Homo sapiens: one gene and its partner. The protein of the gene in region 1 purifies or fractionates together with the protein of each later gene. This does not show direct contact. Each region holds a gene or a part of one and is shown on either strand. Other genes may lie near its edges.

Region 1 (9,306 bases):
GCTCTGTTGCCCAGGCTGGAGTGCAGTGCCTCAAGTGGTCTTATGGCCTCACCTCCTGAGTAGCTAAGACAACAGGCATATACCACCACACCCAGGTAATTAAAAGTTTTTTGGTAGGCAACTGTGTTGCCTTGGCTGGCCTCTAACTCCTGGACTTAAACGATTCTCCCCACTTGGTCTTTTAGGGTGCTGGGATTACAGGTGTGAGCCACCGTGCTGGCTTTAAAATACTTTACTTTTTTGAGACAGCATCTCGCTCTGTCGCCCAGGCTGGAGTGCAATGGCACAATCTCGGCTCTCTGCAACCTCCACCTCTTGGGTTCTCATGCCTCAGCCTCCAGAATAGCTGGGATTACAGGCATGTGCTACCACACCCAGCTAATTTTGGTATTTTTTAATAGAGATGGGGGTTTCACCATGTTGACCAGGCTGGTCTCAAACTCCCAGCCTCAAGTGATCCACCTACCTCAGCGTAGTAAAGTGCTGGGAGTACAGGCATGAGCCACCACATTCTGCCCTTAAAATACTTTATATCTCTTGTTATTTGACTTTAAATATTACTGCTTCATTCTCTTAACTAGATTTTAAATGACCTGATGACAAGTTCAAAAGGGAATGGACTCTGGGAGTCAGGCTGACCTTGAATCTCAACTTGATCCCTTCTTCTGTAAATCCTTTGAGCCTTTGTTTTCTCCTCTATAAAATGATCACAATATCACCTTACAGAGCAACTGTGAGAATTAAATGAGATAGCAAATATTAACTGAGCAAAACATAGCAAGTTTTCTACATTCTTTTCTTTCTTTCTAATAAGGCAGTGAGAGAGAAAGCAAGTTCTCTATATTCTACTCCTCATCTAAATCCCATCTTCCTTAAGGCCAAATATTCAGTTTCTATACGATGGCAATTAAAAAATTACTGATTATTTCAGAAGTGTGTGTGTGTGTGTGTGTGTACACTCTACTTGATAAAATTGTTCCCAGGAGGGTACCAGTATGTAATTCTGATACTGCTATATTTGTATACTGGAACTGAACTGAAGTTCAATACATGGATGGCAGATGGTAGGAACAAGGTATCTTACTGTTGGAGTGGGAATTTACAAATTAGCACAGGGAGGAGGCTAGGACGATCTATGTGGTAATGGATTACAGCTAAAGACATCAATAAGAACACTAGCCAGGCACAGTGGGGCATGCCTGTATCCCCAGCTACTTGGAAGGCTGACGCAAGAGGACTGCTTGAGCCAAGGAGTTCGAGGCTCTAGTGCACTATCATCACACCTGTGAGTAGCCACTGCACTCCAGCCTGAATAACACAGCAAGAACCCATCTTAAAAAAAAAAGAAAAAGAAAAAGAAAGCTCATTTAACTTAATATATGTAGATACAGATGGCTATGCAAATAAAAATTTATAGATATGTAATATATACACGAGTAAGCACACACAGGTAACAATTCTTTATTTTTTTAATTTTTTTTTGAGACAGAGTCTCGCCCTGTCACCCAGGCTGGAATGCAATGGTGCAATCTCGGCTCACTGCAACCTCCGCCTCCCAGGTTCAAACGATTCTCCTACCTCGGCCTCCCAAGTAGCTGGGATCACAGGCTCCCGCCACCATGCCCAGCTAATTTTTGTACTTTAGTAGATACGGGGTTTCACCATGTTAGCCAGGCTGGTCTCGAACTCCTGACCTTGTGATCCACCCACCTCTGCCTCACAAAGTGCCGGGATTATAGGTGTGAGCCACTGCGCCTGGCTTACAGTTATTTATTCTGTCAAGTGAGAGGGCCTAAAAGAAACACTCCAGTAGCAACAAGCTTACATAAGGCCTAGAACTTGGTTTTAATATCATTCTCCAATAAAAGGAAGCAGAGCTCCTTGGAGAAACAGCTGATTCTAGTACTGGAGCAAGAAATAAACAAGATGAGCCTGGAGCATCTTTTGGTGCCAGAAAGGAAAGAAGTGCTTTAAAGTGCAGGCACATATACACAAAAACACAATGGGATACTGCCAATGGACACAAAGCCAGCTGAAAGAATTCCCAATGGCCAAAGTTGGAACAATTTGAGCAACAAAATATAGTAGCATTAGATTATAACGAAGTATAAACTATCCATAAGTTTATACTAATGTAAATAACTGAATAAATAAATAAATTGGGGAAAAGAGACAAATCCCCAATATGGAAAAATCCCAAATAAAATATGTAGATATTCCACCCTAATGTAGACAGAGTATAACTCTCCAGTCTGTAAGAGTGAAATGCACATAGTGACTTTCTTCCAAAAAGTGCATGGAAAGGGGGAAAATGAAAAGAATAACTTTACAGGAGAAACCTAACGAACAAACACTACTTCAGCCAGGTAATCAAGGTCCACATCAACAGTCATAAATCATAAAGATAGTATGTACCCCTGATATGATGGGATACAAATGGCACTTTACCTCTGTGATCTTCCTCCCAAACCCTTTATAAGTCCGGTCTAATCACAAGAAAAACAAATTCCAACAGAGGGGCAATCTACAATACACCTGACCAGCACTCCTCAAAGCTGTCAAGGTCATCAAAAACTAGGGAAGCCTGAAAAACTGTCACAGCCAAGAACAGCCTAATGAGACATGGCAAGTATATGTAATGTGGTATTTTGGAATGGAAAAAGAACATTAGGTAAAAACTAAGGGACCGGGCACGGAGGCCTCACGCCTGTAATCCCAGCAGTTTGGGAGGCCAAGGTGGGTGGATCACAAGGTCAGGAGCTCGAGACCAACCTGGACAACATGGTGAAACCCCGTCTCTACTGAAAATACAAAAATCAGCCGGGCGTGGTGGCAGGCACCTGTAATCCCAGCTACTCAGGAGGCTGTGGCAAGAGAATAGCTTGAACCTGGGAGGCGGAGGTTGCAGTGAGCTGAGATCGCGCCATAGCACTCCAGCCTGGGACAGAGCGAGACTCTGTCTCAAAAAACAAAACAAAACAAAACAAAACAAGGGAATCAGAAAAAAACTATGGTCTTTAGTTAATAAAACTGTATCAATATTGCTTCATTAAATATAGCAAATTTACCCTTCGAAGGTAAGATATTAATAGGGAAAACTGCATACAGGGGCTGGGGACAGGGAAGGAGTCATTAAGGTGTCCACATCCCCTGACAACTCAAGGCTTAAAACAGTGGCACAAGGCTGGGTGTACTGGCTTATGCTTGTAATCCCAGCACTTTGGGAGGCTGAGGCAGGCAGATAGCTTGAGCTCAGGAGTTTGAGACCAGCCTAGGCAACATGGCAAAACCCCGTATCTACCAAAAAAAATACAAAAATTAGCCAGGCATGGTGGCGTGAGCCTGTAGTGAGGGCTGAGGTGGGAGAATTGCTTGAGCCCAGGAGGCTGAGGCTGCAGTGAGCAAGATCACACTACAACCTGGGTGACAGAGCAAGACCCTGTTTAAAAACAAAAAACAGTGACACAAAAGCAAATCTATTTTCCTAATGTAACTAGTTAGCATCATTAAAAAAAAAAAAAACACTGCAAGTTGGAAAACATTGGGTTTCTTTATTGCAGAATATCAGAACTTATGATATGCTGATGTATACCCAGTCTGTCTGTCCTTCCCATTTCTTGATTTGGTTTAGTTGTTGTCTCCACTTTGACCAGAAACAATTTTCTTCACACTTATAAAACAAAGCCGGCTGGGTGCAGTGGCTCATGCCTATAATCCCAACACTTCCAGGAGGCAGAGGCGGGTGGATCACCTGAGGTCAGGAGTTCGAGACCAGCCTGACCAATATGGTGAAAACCCATCTCTACTAAAAATACAAAAATCAGGCCAGGCGCGGTGACTTGCACTTGTAATCCCAGCACTTTGGGAGGCCGAAGTGGGCAGATCACAAGGTCAGGAGTTCGAGACCAGCCTGGCCAACACAGTGAAACCCCATCTCTACTAAAAATACAAAAAAAAAAATTAGCCAGGTGTGGTGGCACACGCCTGTAGTCCCAGCCACTCGGGCAGCTGAGGTGGGAGAACCGCTTGAACGCAGGAGGCAGAGGTTGCAATGAGCTGAGACCATGCCATTGCACTCCAGCCTGGGTGACAGAGTGAGACTCCATCTCAAAAAAATAAAAATAAAAACAAAAATTAGCCAGGCATGGTGGCATGCGCCTGTAATCCCAGCTACTTGGGAGACTGAGGCAGGAGACTTGCTTGAACCCAGAGGCGGAGGTTGCAGTGAGCCAAGATCATGCCACTGCACTGCAGCCTGGGTGACAGAGTGAGACTGCGTCTCAAAAACAACAAAAACCCACACAAAAATAGAGCCATTTCCCCAGGTCTGCACAAAAGAGAACATCTACACCTAGAAAAGAAACATTTAAGAACCAAGAGATCAAACAAGCACCCACTGAGTAATGCAGAGCAGCAACAATCCATCGAAAGCCACCTCACCTGGTTTCCAGAAAGAGGTGAAGTGAAGTGGTGACTATGGAGGTTTCGGCCAGTGTTGACATGTGTCAGCCGGATGGGCTGGCCACACTTGATGGGGGTTCCCCTCTCACACACTGTGGCACTCTTCCCCCGTATCCTCCAGTAACTGTTGCTGTCATCCACAGAGGTTACACCTGTCACTGACTGCTGCCCACTACCTGCAGTTAAGAAAAGAAAGGCAACTCTCTTTCTCTGCCATGGACAACATGCTCAGAGACAGAAGCTTGAGTGCGCTCAAGATTCACCTTCACCTGTAACCCACCACCATGACCAAGGAAGACACGCTGCTGGAGGTGTAATGGATATTAATACTGCTCTACAAGAGACTGAAGACCGCCCTCAGCCATGATGGCCTAGCAGGTGGAACCTGCAAAGCTGCCAAAGCCTTAGACAAGGGCCAAGCCCATCTTTGCGTGCTTGCATCCAAATGTGAAGAGCCTATGTATGTCAAGCTAGGGGTGGCCCTTTGTGCCGAACACCAAATCAACCCAATTAAGGTTGATGACCTTAAGAAACCAGAGACATGGCTAAGCCTTTGTAAAACTGATAGACAAGGAAAACTTTGTAAAGTGGTTGGTTGCAGTTGTGTCACAGTGAAGGGCTACAGCAAAGAATTTCAGGCCAAGGATGTGACTGTGTACTTCAAATGCAAGAAATTAACAAATAAATTTGGTACCCATTCCTCAAAAAAAAAAACAGCAAGTGAGCTCAGCCTCACCCTTCTTGCCTATGGCCAATATTGTGCCGTGTCATTAAACAGGTAAGAAGGGGTGGGGAGAAAAATGCTATGCTTGGCAATATTTTTTCTTCTACAACATTAAAATATTTATAAAAAATACAAATCATACTGGGCGTGGTGGCTCACGCTTGTAATCCCAGCACTCTGGGAGTGAAACTTGACCTCCCAAAGTGCTGGGATTGATGGTGAGCCACTGTGCCCAGCCTTTTTCTTCTTTTAAATAAAAAAAAAATTTTTTAGGCTGGGTGTGGTGGCTCACACCTGTAATCCTAGCACTTTTTGGGAGGCTGAGGCAGTTGGATTGCTTGAGCCCAGGAATTCAAGACCAGCCTGGGCAACATGGCAAAAACCCATCTTTACTAAAAATACAAAAATTAGCTGGGTGTGGTGGTGGCAGCCTGTAATCCCAGCTATCTGGGAGGCTGAGGTGGGAGAATCGCTTGAACCCGGGAGGTGGAGGTTGCAATGAGCCAAGATCGCGCCACTGCCCTCCAGCCTGGATGACAGAGCCAGACTCCGTCTCAAAAAAAATAAATAAATAAACTGTGTCCACGTAATACTAGTTACTATATGATAAAGTATACTTAAGGGTATGTCATATCAGAAAATTCTAAGAATTTGCATCAAAGGATATCCAAGGCACAAATCTATGTGAGTTTTTTGAGGCACAGGCAGTGGTAACCTATACACACTAGCCTGGATAGCCCCTAATGTGTCTAATCACATAATTTTAACATGTTTGTAATATTATTCATGTTCATTAACTATTATGATAAAAATTTTTGTATTTCACAATTAAAATGAGACTATGTTGCCAACTTTAAGCAGCCATTACAGCTCCCAACTCCCATAAGTGGTCAATTATTATAAACGTATTATTTAAGCAAGGCACGGTGGCTCACGCCTGTAATCCCAGCACTTTGGGAGGCTGAGGCAGGCAGAACACAAAGTCATGAGTTCGAGACCAGCCTGGCCAATATGGTGAAACCCCGTCTCTACTAAAAATATAAAAATTAGCTGGGCGTGGTCGCATGTGCCTGTAATCCCAGCTACTTGGGAGGCTGAGGCAGAAGAATTGCTTGCATCCGGGAGGCGGAGGTTGCAGTGAGCCGAGATCACACCACCGCACTCCAGCCTAGGTGGCAGGGCAAGACTCTGTCTCAAAACAAAAACAAAAACAAAACAAAAAATGTATCCTTGGAGGTCTGGCACAGTGGCTCATGCCTGTAATCCAAGCGCTTTGGGAAGGTGAGGGGAGGATCCCTTGAGTCCAGGAGTTCGAGACTAGCCTCAGCAACATAGCAAAATGCAGTCTCTAAACGTACATATATATATATGTATTTTTTTTTTTTGATACAGGATCCCTCTTGTCACTCAGGCTGGAGTGCAGTGGCACGATCACAGCTCGCCACAGCCTTGACCTCCCAGGCTCGGGTGATCCTCCTACCTCAGCCTCCCAAGTAGCTGGGATTTCAGGCGCCTGCCACCACACCTGGCTAATTTTTCTATTTTTTGTAGAGATGGGTTTTTGCCATGTTGCCCAGGCTACTCTCGAATTCCTGGGCTCAAGCAATCCAACTGCCTCAGCCTCCCAAAGTGCTAGGATTACAGATGTGAGCCACCACACCCAGCCTAAAAAAAAATTTTTATATTTAAAAGAAAAAAAAGAAGCTGGGCACAGTGGCTCACCGTCAATCCCAGCACTTTGGGAGGTCAAGGTGGGCAGATCGCTTGAGCCCAGGAATTCAAGACCAAGCCTAAGCAACTGACAAAACTCCATCTCTACAAAAGATGCAAAAAATTAATCAGGTGTGGTGGGGTGCACTTGTAGTCCCAGCTACTCAGGACGCTGAGATGTGAGGATTGCTTGAGCCCAGGAGGTCAAGGCTGCAATGAGTCGTAATTGTGTCACTGCCAGTTACACGGGTAAATGTAGCCAACTATCAGCTCCTTTCATGACTTTATTATATCTTTTTTCAGAAAAGGCAAACCAAGTCTCCCTTCCTACTTCTGGTTACTGCCTTACAGCTCTCTGGGTCCTCACAGCCACGCTTCACTAAACCATGGTCTACATTTTGTCTCCTACATTTTCTGCTTTCTATTCAACCGTTCACTTCTTCCTCCAAATCCTTATACCTTGGGATTATCCAAAGTTCTATGCCTGGCCTTCATCTGTTTCTACCTGTAGTTTTTTTTTTTTTTTTTAGTATTTATTGTTCATTCTTGGGTGTTTCTCGGAGAGGGGGATGTGGCAGGGTCACAGGATAATAGTGGAGAGAAGGTCAGCAGATAAACATGTGAACAAAGGTCTCTGGTTTTCCTAGGCAGAGGTCCCTGCGGCCTTCCGCAGTGTTTGTGTCCCTGGGTACTTGAGATTAGGGAGTGGTGATGACTCTTAACGAGCATGCTGCCTTCAAGTATCTGTTTAACAAAGCACATCTTGCACCACCCTTAATCCATTTAACCCTGAGTTGACACAGCACACGTTTCAGAGAGCACGGGGTTGGGGGTAAGGTTATAGATTAACAGCATCCCAAAGCTGAAGAATTTTTCTTAGTACAGAACAAAATGGAGTCTCCTATGTCTACTTCTTTCTACACAGACACAGTAACAATCTGATCTCTCTTTCTTTTCCCCACATTTCCCCCTTTTCTTTTCGACAAAACCGCCATCGTCATCATGGCCCATTCTCGATGGTCGCTGTCTCTTCGGTGCTGTTGGGTACACCTGCAGAAAGGCTGTCACTTCACACTTGGAAGACTGCACAGCGGCCAGGCAGAGGCGCTCCTCACTTCCCAGACGGGGCGGCCGGGCAGAGGCACTCCTCACTTCCCAGACAGGGTGGCCGGGCAGAGGAGCTCCTCACTTAACAGACTGGGTGGCCGGGCAGAGGCGCTCCTCACATCCCAGACGATGGGAGGCCGGACAGAGGCGCTCCTCCCCTCCCAGACGGGGCGGCCGTGCAGAGGCGCTCCTCACTTCCTAGATGGGACAGCCAGGCAGAGGTGCTCCTCAACTCCCAGACGAAGGGCGGCCGGGCAGAGGCGCTCCTCACATCCCAGACAATGGGCGGCCGGGCAGAGGCGCTCCTCACTTCCCAGACAGGGTGGCGGCCGGGCAGAGGCGCTCCTCACATCCCAGACGGGGTGGCGGCCAGGCAGAGGCGCTCCCCACTTCCCAGACGGGGCGGCTGGGCAGAGGCGCTCCCCACTTCCCAGACGGGGCAGCCGGGCAGAGGCGCTCCCCACTTCCCAGACAGGGCGGCCGGGCAGAGGCGCTCCCCACTTCCCAGACGGGGCAGCCGGGCAGAGGCGCTCCCCACTTCCCAGATGGGGTGGCGGCCGGGCAGAGGCGCTCCTCACATCCCAGACAGGGCGGCCAGGTGCTCCCCACTTCCCAGATGGGGTGGCCGGGCAGAGGTGCTCCTCACCTCCCAGATAATGGGCAGCCCACTTCCCAGATGGGGTGGCAGCCGGGCAAAGGCACTCCTCACATCCCAGATGGCGCGGCCGGGCAGAGGCGCTCCTCACTTCCCAGACGGGGCGGCCAGGCAGAGGCGCTCCTCACTTCCTAGACAGGGCGGCCAGGCAGAGACGCTCCTCACATCCCAGACAGGGTGATGGCCGGGCAGAGGTGCTCCTCACTTCCCAGACGGGGTGGCGGCCGGGCAGAGGCCCTCCTCATATCCCAGACGGGGCGGCCAGGCAGAGGCGCTCCTCACATCCCAGACGATGGGCGGCCAGGCAGAGACGCTCCTCACTTCCTAGACGGGGTGGCGGCCGGGCAGAGGCTGTACTCTTAGCACTTTGGGAGGCCAAGGCAGGCGGCTGGGAGGTGGAAGTTGTAGTGAGCCAAGATCACACCACTGCACTCCAGCCTGGGCAACACTGAGCACTGAGTGAGCAAGACTCCATCTGCAATCCCAGCACCTCGGGAGGCTGAGGCAGGCAGATCACTCGAGGTCAGGAGCTGGAGACCAGCCCAGCCAACACGGCGAAACCCCGTCTCCACCAAAAATACGAAAACCAGTCAGGCATGGCGGCGTGTGCCTGCAATCCCAGGCACTCGGCAGGCCGTGGCAGGAGAAT
Region 2 (9,306 bases), on another chromosome or scaffold:
ATATATAGTTCTCAAGCAAATATAAGTGGAATTCTGTTGTTGTTTTCAATAAGATATTTGGAATATTTTCATTAAGCTAATGAAACTGGCTGGGCACAATTGCCTATGCCTGTAATCCCAGCACTTTGGGAGGCCAAGGCAGAAGGATCCCTTGAGCCTAGGGGTTCAAGATCAGCCTGGGCAACATAAGGAGACCATGTTTCCTGGGCAACATAGGGAGACCATGTTTCTACAAGAAATATTTTAAAAATTAGCCAGGCATGGAGGCCTGCGCCTGTAGTCCCAGCTACTTCAGAGGCTGAGGCAGGAGGATAGCTTGAGTCTGGGAGACCAAAGCTGCGTGCAGTGAGCTGTGATTATGCCACTGCACTCTAGCCTAGCTGACAAAGTAAGATCCTGTCTCAAAAAAAAAAAAAAGTTATTCGACTATAAACATGGTATCTTTAGAATCATACCTTCAAGGCTAGGACAACTGAAGGAAAACTTTTCAAAAATATTTAAATAGCCTATCGTTATTCATGTTTAAGCAGTGTCCTGGTATTAAGTGTCACAGTTACCAAAAGAAAACGTCGTCTAACACAAGTGTATGTTTGAAATTGCATACGGACCTCCAGTGCTATCTTTTCCAGCTGAGGAAATGGTTGAGTGCTAGAAATTTTCAAGGTTCTTCATCTCTATTAAATATGACCATTAGCTCATAATTCAATGAAGATACCTCATTGATTCACTTTTATTTATTTATTTATTTATTTATTTATTTATTTATTTATTTATTTATTTTGAGACGGAGTCTCGCTCTGTTGCCCTGGCTGGAGTGTGGTGGCACGATCTCAGCTCACTGCAACCTCCACCTCCTGGGTTTAAGCAATTCTTCTGCCTCAGCCTCCCGAGTAGCTGGGACTACAGGCCAGTGCCAGCACTCCTGGCTCTTTTTTTTTTGTATTTTTAGTAGAGACAGGGTTTCACCATATTGGCCAGGCTGGTCTCAAACTCCTGACCTAGTGATTCGCCTGCCTCTGCCTCCCAAAGTGCTGGGATTACAGGCGTGAGCCACTGCACCCAGCCTGTTTCACTATTTTTTATATGCTCCAGTTTTTGTTTTTGTTTTTTAAGGAGAGGGATCTAAATATCCATTTCTTTGCAGTATTGCTCTTTCTAGTGGAATAATGTTAATTGAAAGACTTGGTGAGCTTTTTCAAGTATACTGTTGTATTAGGAAACAAAGTTTAAAAGAGCTTAACCAGTGAGCTTATTTTCTCATGTCAGTATTCTTGAACCAGACTATACATTTCCTAATAAATGCACATATCTTCCCTGTAGCCACTATTGAGTCCTTACTTATATAGATGATGTGATGAGTTAACTTGAGTGTATACATGTATCTGCCATGTATAATAGGTCAAAGATAAAGTTTGCATGTTTTCATCATCAACTCAATTGCTGCCTTATGAGAAAAAAAACAGTGCTTATTTCTTCATTAATTAAAAAAAATCATAAATCTCTGGTCATATGGAAAAGAAAGGATAGTGGGCTTGGCTCAGTATTTTTTAAAACCCGTAGCCAAGTCTTTGTTTCATTGAATTTTTAGCCAGCATAGCTTATGTGTACCTGCTCCCAAGCTCCCACAATACTACAGTAAAATTAAGACTTGGTAGCATAGCTGGACATACATGAGTTATTTATATACCCAACTCACTGGTGCCTTTCATTAATTCTAAAGCTAGCCAGTTATTCTGACAGGTTCATTTGCTTTTTTGCTTTGTTCTGTTGTGATGATTTGCTTTTTATTTTTAACATTTTTTAGGCTTACTTCACTTTATTTTTCTTGTATAAAAACCCTATGTTGTAGCCACAGCTAGAGCCTGGGTCCTCTGTCTGGAGACTCTGGTGTGGGTCTTGACGAGGTGGCCAGTGAATTCCTGATACGGAGACTTGGTGAATACAGTCTCCTTCCAGAGGTTGGGGGCCAGTTAGCTGTAGGTCTTGGAGATGGCATCATAGGTGGCCTTGGTGAAGTTGGCCAGGGTGGCAGTGCAGCCCCTGGCTGAGGAGTAGCAGTCATCGATACTGGCCATCATCAGCAGCTTCTTGGGCACTAGGGCTAAGAGAATGCCAGTGCCTCTGGGTGCAGGGATGAGGCGCACCAGCACAAAGCCACAGCAGTCTGTCACCTTGCAAGGGACTGCGTGGTGCTTGCTGATCTTGTTCCCCCAGTAGCCTCTGTGCACGGGGACATTGGAGAGCTTGGCCAGGATGATAGTCCCTTGGATGGCAGTGGCCACCTCCTTGGAGCAAGTGGCCATTGTAGTCCCCAGTGGCAACAAACACCTGGAATCTGGTGTGCTGGCCAGTGCGCGTCTGCTTCTGCACTGGCACAATCTTCAAAACCTCATCCTTGAGAGAGGTCCCCAGGAAAAAGTCAATGATCTCAGACTCCTTGATGGGCAGGGAGAAGTGATAGGTTTTCAGCAGGACTTCATCTTCGTGTCTTTGACCAGGCAGCTCAGCTTGGTCATGGGTGTCCACTCCTTATCCTCAGCCTTGCCTCCTTGAGCTCTGTGGCCCCGACCCTGGCCCCAGATGCCACTGCCCAAGCCTCCATGGAAGTCACTGTGGTTCCCCATCCCAGGGTCTCTGGGGCCTCTGGGCCCTCCTGCTGCCCTAGCTTCATCTGCCATTTGATGTTTTTTCAGAGAAGAAGCTGATTTGCTTTTTAAACAAATCTCACCTCAGAAAGACTAGCTAGTATCTAGTACATAAAGTCCAGGGTGAGCATCCCACATTAAAAAATCTGAAATCTAAAATGATCCAAAATCCAGAACTTTCTGAGTGCTGATGTGATGGTGCTCAAAGGAAATGCTCATTGGAACATTCAGATTTGGGATGCTCAGTCAGTAAGCATAAGGCAAATATTCCAAAACCTGGACCTGAAATCCAAAACACCTCTGGTCCCAAGCATTTTGGATAAGTGATACTCAACCTGTATATTTATGTAACATCTCAAAACTATATATAATGTGACATACAAAGTGAAGACAGCCATGTCTTGTTAAGAACTGGTGCTTCCTGTACAGCCTAGAGGCATAAAGTTAATTTCTTAGTTTTGGCCAAAATGAATCGCTAATATTTTTAAGCCATTGCATAATTTTTTGCTGTTCCAACTTGTTTAGTAGTAGTGAATTGTAGATATTAGTGAATGTGTCTGTTTTGTCTTATTTTTTGCTTATTTTATCTTAACATGGTTATTTATTTTGCCTTTGAACACTTGGAATCTGTTTCTATAATAGCCTGGATGATGGCCGTTAGGAGTGGATTGATGTGAGGAGTTTGTAGGATGAGGCTGAAGGAAAGGATTAGCCTCCTGCACTTTGTAGAAATTCTCACTATAGTGCAGAATATTAAAAAGAGTCATTTTTAAAAAGATGAATTAATGTGAAATACTGTGTGCTTGAACCAGATTTCTACAACTGCTTTTGAAAATTTAAAAAGAAAATCCAATTTGGTTAAATCTATAGGGGACTAAAAGTTTGCTGTTAAAATTTTTAGTTAATTCACTAACCCTTTTTTTTTTCTTTTTTCTTTTTTTTAACCTTCAGATGGTGAGGTCTACAGCTTTGGGACTCTTCCCTGGAGAAGTGGACCAGTGGAGATTTGTCCAAGTAGCCCCATTCTAGAAAATGCCCTGGTTGGGCAATATGTTATTACTGTGGCAACAGGAAGCTTCCATAGTGGAGCAGTGACAGACAATGGTGTCGCGTACATGTGGGGAGAGAATTCTGCTGGCCAGTGTGCAGTAGCCAACCAGCAGTATGTGCCGGAACCAAATCCTGTCAGCATTGCTGATTCTGAGGCCAGCCCTTTGTTAGCAGTCAGGATTTTACAGTTGGCGTGTGGCGAGGAGCACACTCTGGCATTGTCAATAAGCAGAGAGATTTGGGCATGGGGTACCGGTTGTCAGTTGGGTCTCATTACCACTGCCTTCCCAGTGACAAAGCCGCAAAAGGTAGAACATCTTGCTGGGCGAGTGGTGCTTCAAGTTGCCTGTGGTGCTTTCCACAGCTTAGCCCTTGTACAATGCCTCCCTTCCCAGGATCTGAAGCCAGTCCCAGAACGATGCAACCAGTGCAGCCAGCTCTTGATTACTATGACTGACAAAGAAGACCATGTGATTATATCAGACAGTCATTGTTGCCCATTAGGTGTGACACTGACAGAATCTCAGGCAGAAAACCATGCCAGCACTGCTCTCAGCCCCTCCACTGAAACCCTTGACAGGCAGGAAGAAGTATTTGAGAACACTCTTGTAGCAAATGATCAGTCTGTTGCTACTGAACTGAATGCAGTAAGTGCTCAGATCACAAGCAGCGATGCCATGTCCTCTCAACAAAATGTCATGGGAACAACTGAAATTTCCTCTGCCAGAAACATACCATCATACCCTGACACCCAAGCAGTCAATGAATACCTACGGAAACTGTCAGATCATTCAGTAAGAGAGGACTCAGAGCATGGTGAAAAGCCAGTGCCATCTCAGGTACCTGCTCAATTTTATAAAATAAAAGTGTGTCTAGAGTTGAACTGTATGGGCTTTTCTTTAGAAACTTTAAAATGAGTAAGGCTTGGTAGCATTTTTTATTTTTTGAGTTTGATTATAATTTTGTTTTATCAGGCAAGCCTAGATAAAGGAAAGAACCTGGATTAATTCAAAATCACTCTTTATGTTTGTTCTGGCCCTTTATGATATTGAAAGGTGTCATGTTGGGCTTGTTTTATAAGTAGGAGCATTTCATTTTTTTTTCTTGCTAGTACTTTTTTTCTATGGCTAAAGTACTGAATTTTGGTGGGCCCTGAATAGTTTAATATAACTAGAGATTCACAAAGATTCTTCTTACTTGTGTTTGTAACACTCTTCAGAATTCTGTAGAGAAAAGTCTTTTCCTTCTTTAACAGGGAAGATTGTTTTGTGGCAGATCCTTCAATTGTAGGCAGATTTAAAACTTACAGGCAATTACATGTTTCAGTTTTTTTCAATTATAGCTGTGGTCCTTACTGGGCTTAATTTGAAGAGGTGGCTAATATTTTATCTTTTTGTTTGTTTGTTTTTGAGATGGGGTCTTGCTCTGTCACCCAGGCTGGAGTGCAGTAATGCGATTGTGGCTCACTGCAGCCTCGATCTCCCAGGTTCAAGCGATCCTCCCATTTCAGCCTTCCAAGTAGCTGGGACTATACACATGCCACCACACCTGCTGATTTTATTTTTAAGTAGAGTAGAGCCTGTTGCCCAGGCTCATCTCAAACTCCTGAGCTCAAGCAATCCTCCCACCTCAGCCTCCCAAAGTGTTGAGATTACAGGCATGAGCCATCATGCCCAGCCTATTTTATATATCTTATTAAAACTATTTTCATTTTGAAGATTTGTGGTAGAATGAACAAAAGTTGTTTATCAGTAGCACATGGTAAAGTTTGAGTTCCCGCTTAAACTAAATTGTTTTAAAAGGATTATTTCTGTGTTTTACTCTTAGTGTGGCCTTTTGATTTTGCTTTACCAAAACTGTAAGAAAACAAAACAAAAGATCATACTCATAAAAGATCTGTCCTGCAGTGTTTCTTTTTAGGTTTTTGAAACCACATAGCCTCTTGATTCTCAATTCTTATTGTTTACTCTGTCAGAATGTGAACATGAAGGTATTTTTAGAAATAGTCTTTATTTCACAATCTATTCACTGAAACTTGTGGGTATTTGAATTTTTAAAAAAATCAAGGATAAGCTGTTTGGAGAAAGGTATTATAAAGTCTGAACAAAGCAAAAGTAGTAGTTTAACAAGAATGCATGTAGAAAATTCTTAGACTGTACATGCTTATCACATTTTACTTACTTTGTTAAACATTGGAAGTTTTTGTTACTTATGCTAGTAACAATGTGTGTGTTTCTATTGAATTAAATTTAATTTATTTAAATTAAATGTGTGTTTCTATTACATTTAATTTATTCTTTGTAAATAACATCTCAATCATACAGCTAATTCACAAGGAATTTATTTGTTTTAGGGCAAGTTTTTTCTCTTCTGGCGAGATATAACTGAGACTCTCTCACTTGGGAAATAAACCAAAGTATTACTGGTTGACTGGAACTCCTAAAATTATATATTTCATCAAAATTGCTAATTATGTTTTTTGTAGGGGAGGGCTTATTACTATATTTTTAAATATAATTAAGTAGAAGGAGCCAGTTAGAACAGTAGTTCAAGGTTTATATAAGGTAGAGTTTTGTGACTTTGCTGTACCTAGTGGTTAAGAACCCCCTAAAATAGTTACCTCTAAATACCATCACTGCTTATGTAAGGAGCCTTTGTAAACAAAAAGTGGACATAGTGACACTAGTTCTTCTGAACAAGCTATCGTGGGAGCTGTATCACCAAAGAAGTAATAGGCTTTGTATTTCTTTTTCGTTTTATTAAGTATATTTGTTTATTGACTATTTACAGACTAATTTGCATGGAAATAGCTCTTTTGAATTTAGCGTTTAATTCAACAAAATGTTTTGAGTACTTACATGTCAGGCACTTCGCTAGGTACCAGGAATTATTTCCTTTAGGAAGTCAGATGCCAATGTTAAAATATACAAACAAACACACACACACACACACACACACATGCGCACACACACACATTATATTTGTATTTTAGTTTAGGACAAATGAAGGAATGTGTATATTCCCTTTGAGATCTTTGGGTACAATAAGAAGCAAATTTTTCAATATGATCTATGCTGATGAGCTGAAAGCTTTTTTATGTGTTTGGTAGGTACATTTAATGACCTTCCTTTTTAGGGAACAATGATGTTTGACAGCTTAGAGTAAATTTCAACTGATTTTTTCATTAAGATATCAGAAAACTTTAGTTTGACTTTCTAGTACACTTCTAGAATCACACTAAGAACACTGGTTCCAAATGTTTAATTATTAACCTACCACATTTGCCATCTGTGGTAGCAAGAGCAAAGGTAATCCTACAGCTTTTCTAGCCCCTGGGTCATAGAAAATAACTCATTGATGAGCCAGTAAAGGCACTCGAGTTGAGCATAATTTGGGAGATGATAGGTTACAGGTATAACTTATTTTTCCATCTCCATATGCTATATCTAAATTTCAATTTATAAAGCATTTCAGGGAAAGCTTTTTTTTTCTTCATAAAATCTAATTTTTTTCCTGCCACTTCTAGGTAGTAGTCTGTATAAATTTTCCTGAAAGGGATCAATAATGAAATTTGCATTTTTTCAATCTTCTGTCCAGGGCTGTCACAGTGCACTTGGCATTAAAGGCAGTGTTTTCCATGCCTTTTCTTCTCCCTCCCTTTTTACTGTGTTTAATTTTATAAAAGCAGCCGAGGCTTATTTTGAAATACCATAGAAAAACACAACATCTAGACAAAAGGAAGTACTTTGGAGAAGGAACTGTATTTTGAGTACTCATTTCCATTTAATGTGTTAACTCCATGATCAAGAAGAGAATACCTTTAGTTGAAGATGAAGAGAACTTCTGTCGTTTTAGATTCTTACATGCAAATAGCGATGGATATTAGCCTTTCTTTTTATTGATTGCTTGTTGCATAAGGGATTATATTTTTATATAATTTTTTATGTGTGTATATTTTAGCCTCTTTTAGAAGAAGCAATTCCTAATCTCCACAGCCCGCCTACCACAAGCACCTCAGCCCTAAACAGCCTGGTGGTCTCTTGTGCATCTGCTGTTGGTGTGAGAGTGGCTGCTACTTATGAAGCTGGTGCCTTGTCACTGAAGAAAGTTATGAACTTTTATAGTACAACCCCTTGTGAAACTGGAGCTCAGGCAGGCAGTAGTGCCATTGGCCCCGAAGGTTTGAAAGATAGCAGGGAAGAACAGGTTAAACAGGAATCAATGCAAGGAAAGAAAAGTTCAAGTCTTGTGGATATCAGAGAAGAAGAAACAGAGGGAGGCAGTCGAAGACTCTCCCTCCCTGGATTGTTGTCACAAGGTAAGGAAATAACTAGGTTTTGTGAATTGACTTTTGGGGAATCCAGGATGCTCCTGACATCGCATGCTGTATTATTAAAAAAGCTGTCCTAATTATGAAGCTGACATATTCAAATGTGAATATTTATTTAATGGTGGTTTTAAAAGAAAGTTACATGTTTATCTGCTTTAGATATCACTATAAAGTTAGAACGTCACTTTTTCTTGATGTTTGCTCCTGCTTATGAACCTTATTGTGAATCTTATTTTATTGTTCTGGAGTGTTACAGTACCCTTCTTATTTCCTAATTGGGACCGATACTCCAGATCGATGAGGTTGGAGATGCGACCATTGGATAAGTGAATTACTGTACTTGACTTGAAAGAGGAGAGAATTCTTAAGCTTCAAGAAGAGAAAATTTCATTTTCTGAGACCATAGGCAATAAACTTTTTAGAATATTATGCAGTTGGTTCTTCTCCTTTTCTCAATCAGTTCAGCAGTCTCAGCCATCTGGACTTAATGCTTCTCAAGAGTGGCCTGCAGACCAGCAGCATCAGCAGCATCTGGGAACTTGTTACAAACGCAGACTCTCAGGTTCCACTCTCGACTTACTGAATCAAAACATGCATTAGAGCAAGGTCCCCCAGGTGATTAGTATGCACACTAAAGTCTGAGAAGCATTTGATGAGACCAGGATTTGGCAGACTTTTTCTGTAAAGAGCCAAAGAGAAATATTTTAAGGTTTGTAGGACATCCTGTCTCTGTGACAACTACTCAGCTACGCTGTGGTTATGTAAAAGCAGCCAGAGACAATATGTAATGAATGAGTGAAGCTATATCCCAACAAAACTTTATTTACAAAAACATATGGTAGGCCCTGTTTGGCCATGGGCTATAATTGACCAACTCCTGGTTTACATGATTTTGTGCAAAGCTCAAAAGTTAGGAATTCTAGACTGTACTAAAACTTACCTTTTTTACTCTGCACCTGTTTCTCCCCTTGTTCTACTTACTGAACACTCTTGTGCCACTCTTAATTCTCATTACCACCAGATTTTCCTCTACACAAATAAAACTTAAGTCATGATTAATGTGAATATATATGTATATATATATAATATATATGATGTATAAGAAGGCCTATGATCTCTATTAAATCTGAAGGAGAATCTTGCACCAAACTTTTCTTATTCTTAAGTGTCCTTTAGCATTTTAAGTATATAAATATATTTGCAATCTCTTTGAACTACAAATGTGGAATATTTTTTCATATCATTACATCATGAATCCCACTAATAGACTTATATCCTATG

What was found.
Region 2: the proteins of SDF2 (region 1) and ALS2 purify together in Homo sapiens (affinity purification with mass spectrometry; 2 studies listed by BioGRID and IntAct, with this or other methods). This does not show direct contact.

Annotation. Positions count from the first base shown.
Region 1 is NC_000017.11:28,650,847-28,660,152, forward strand, and holds part of SDF2 (stromal cell-derived factor 2 precursor), read right to left. Parts: intron 4,638-9,306; coding exon 4,441-4,637; intron 697-4,440; coding exon of another isoform or gene 640-696; intron 1-639.
Region 2 is NC_000002.12:201,756,109-201,765,414, reverse strand, and holds part of ALS2 (alsin), read left to right. Parts: intron 1-1,804; exon of another isoform or gene 1,805-2,701; intron 2,702-3,596; coding exon 3,597-4,534; coding exon of another isoform or gene 4,535-4,612; exon of another isoform or gene 4,613-5,963; intron 5,964-7,655; coding exon 7,656-8,013; intron 8,014-9,306. UniProt on the Homo sapiens protein: May act as a GTPase regulator. Controls survival and growth of spinal motoneurons.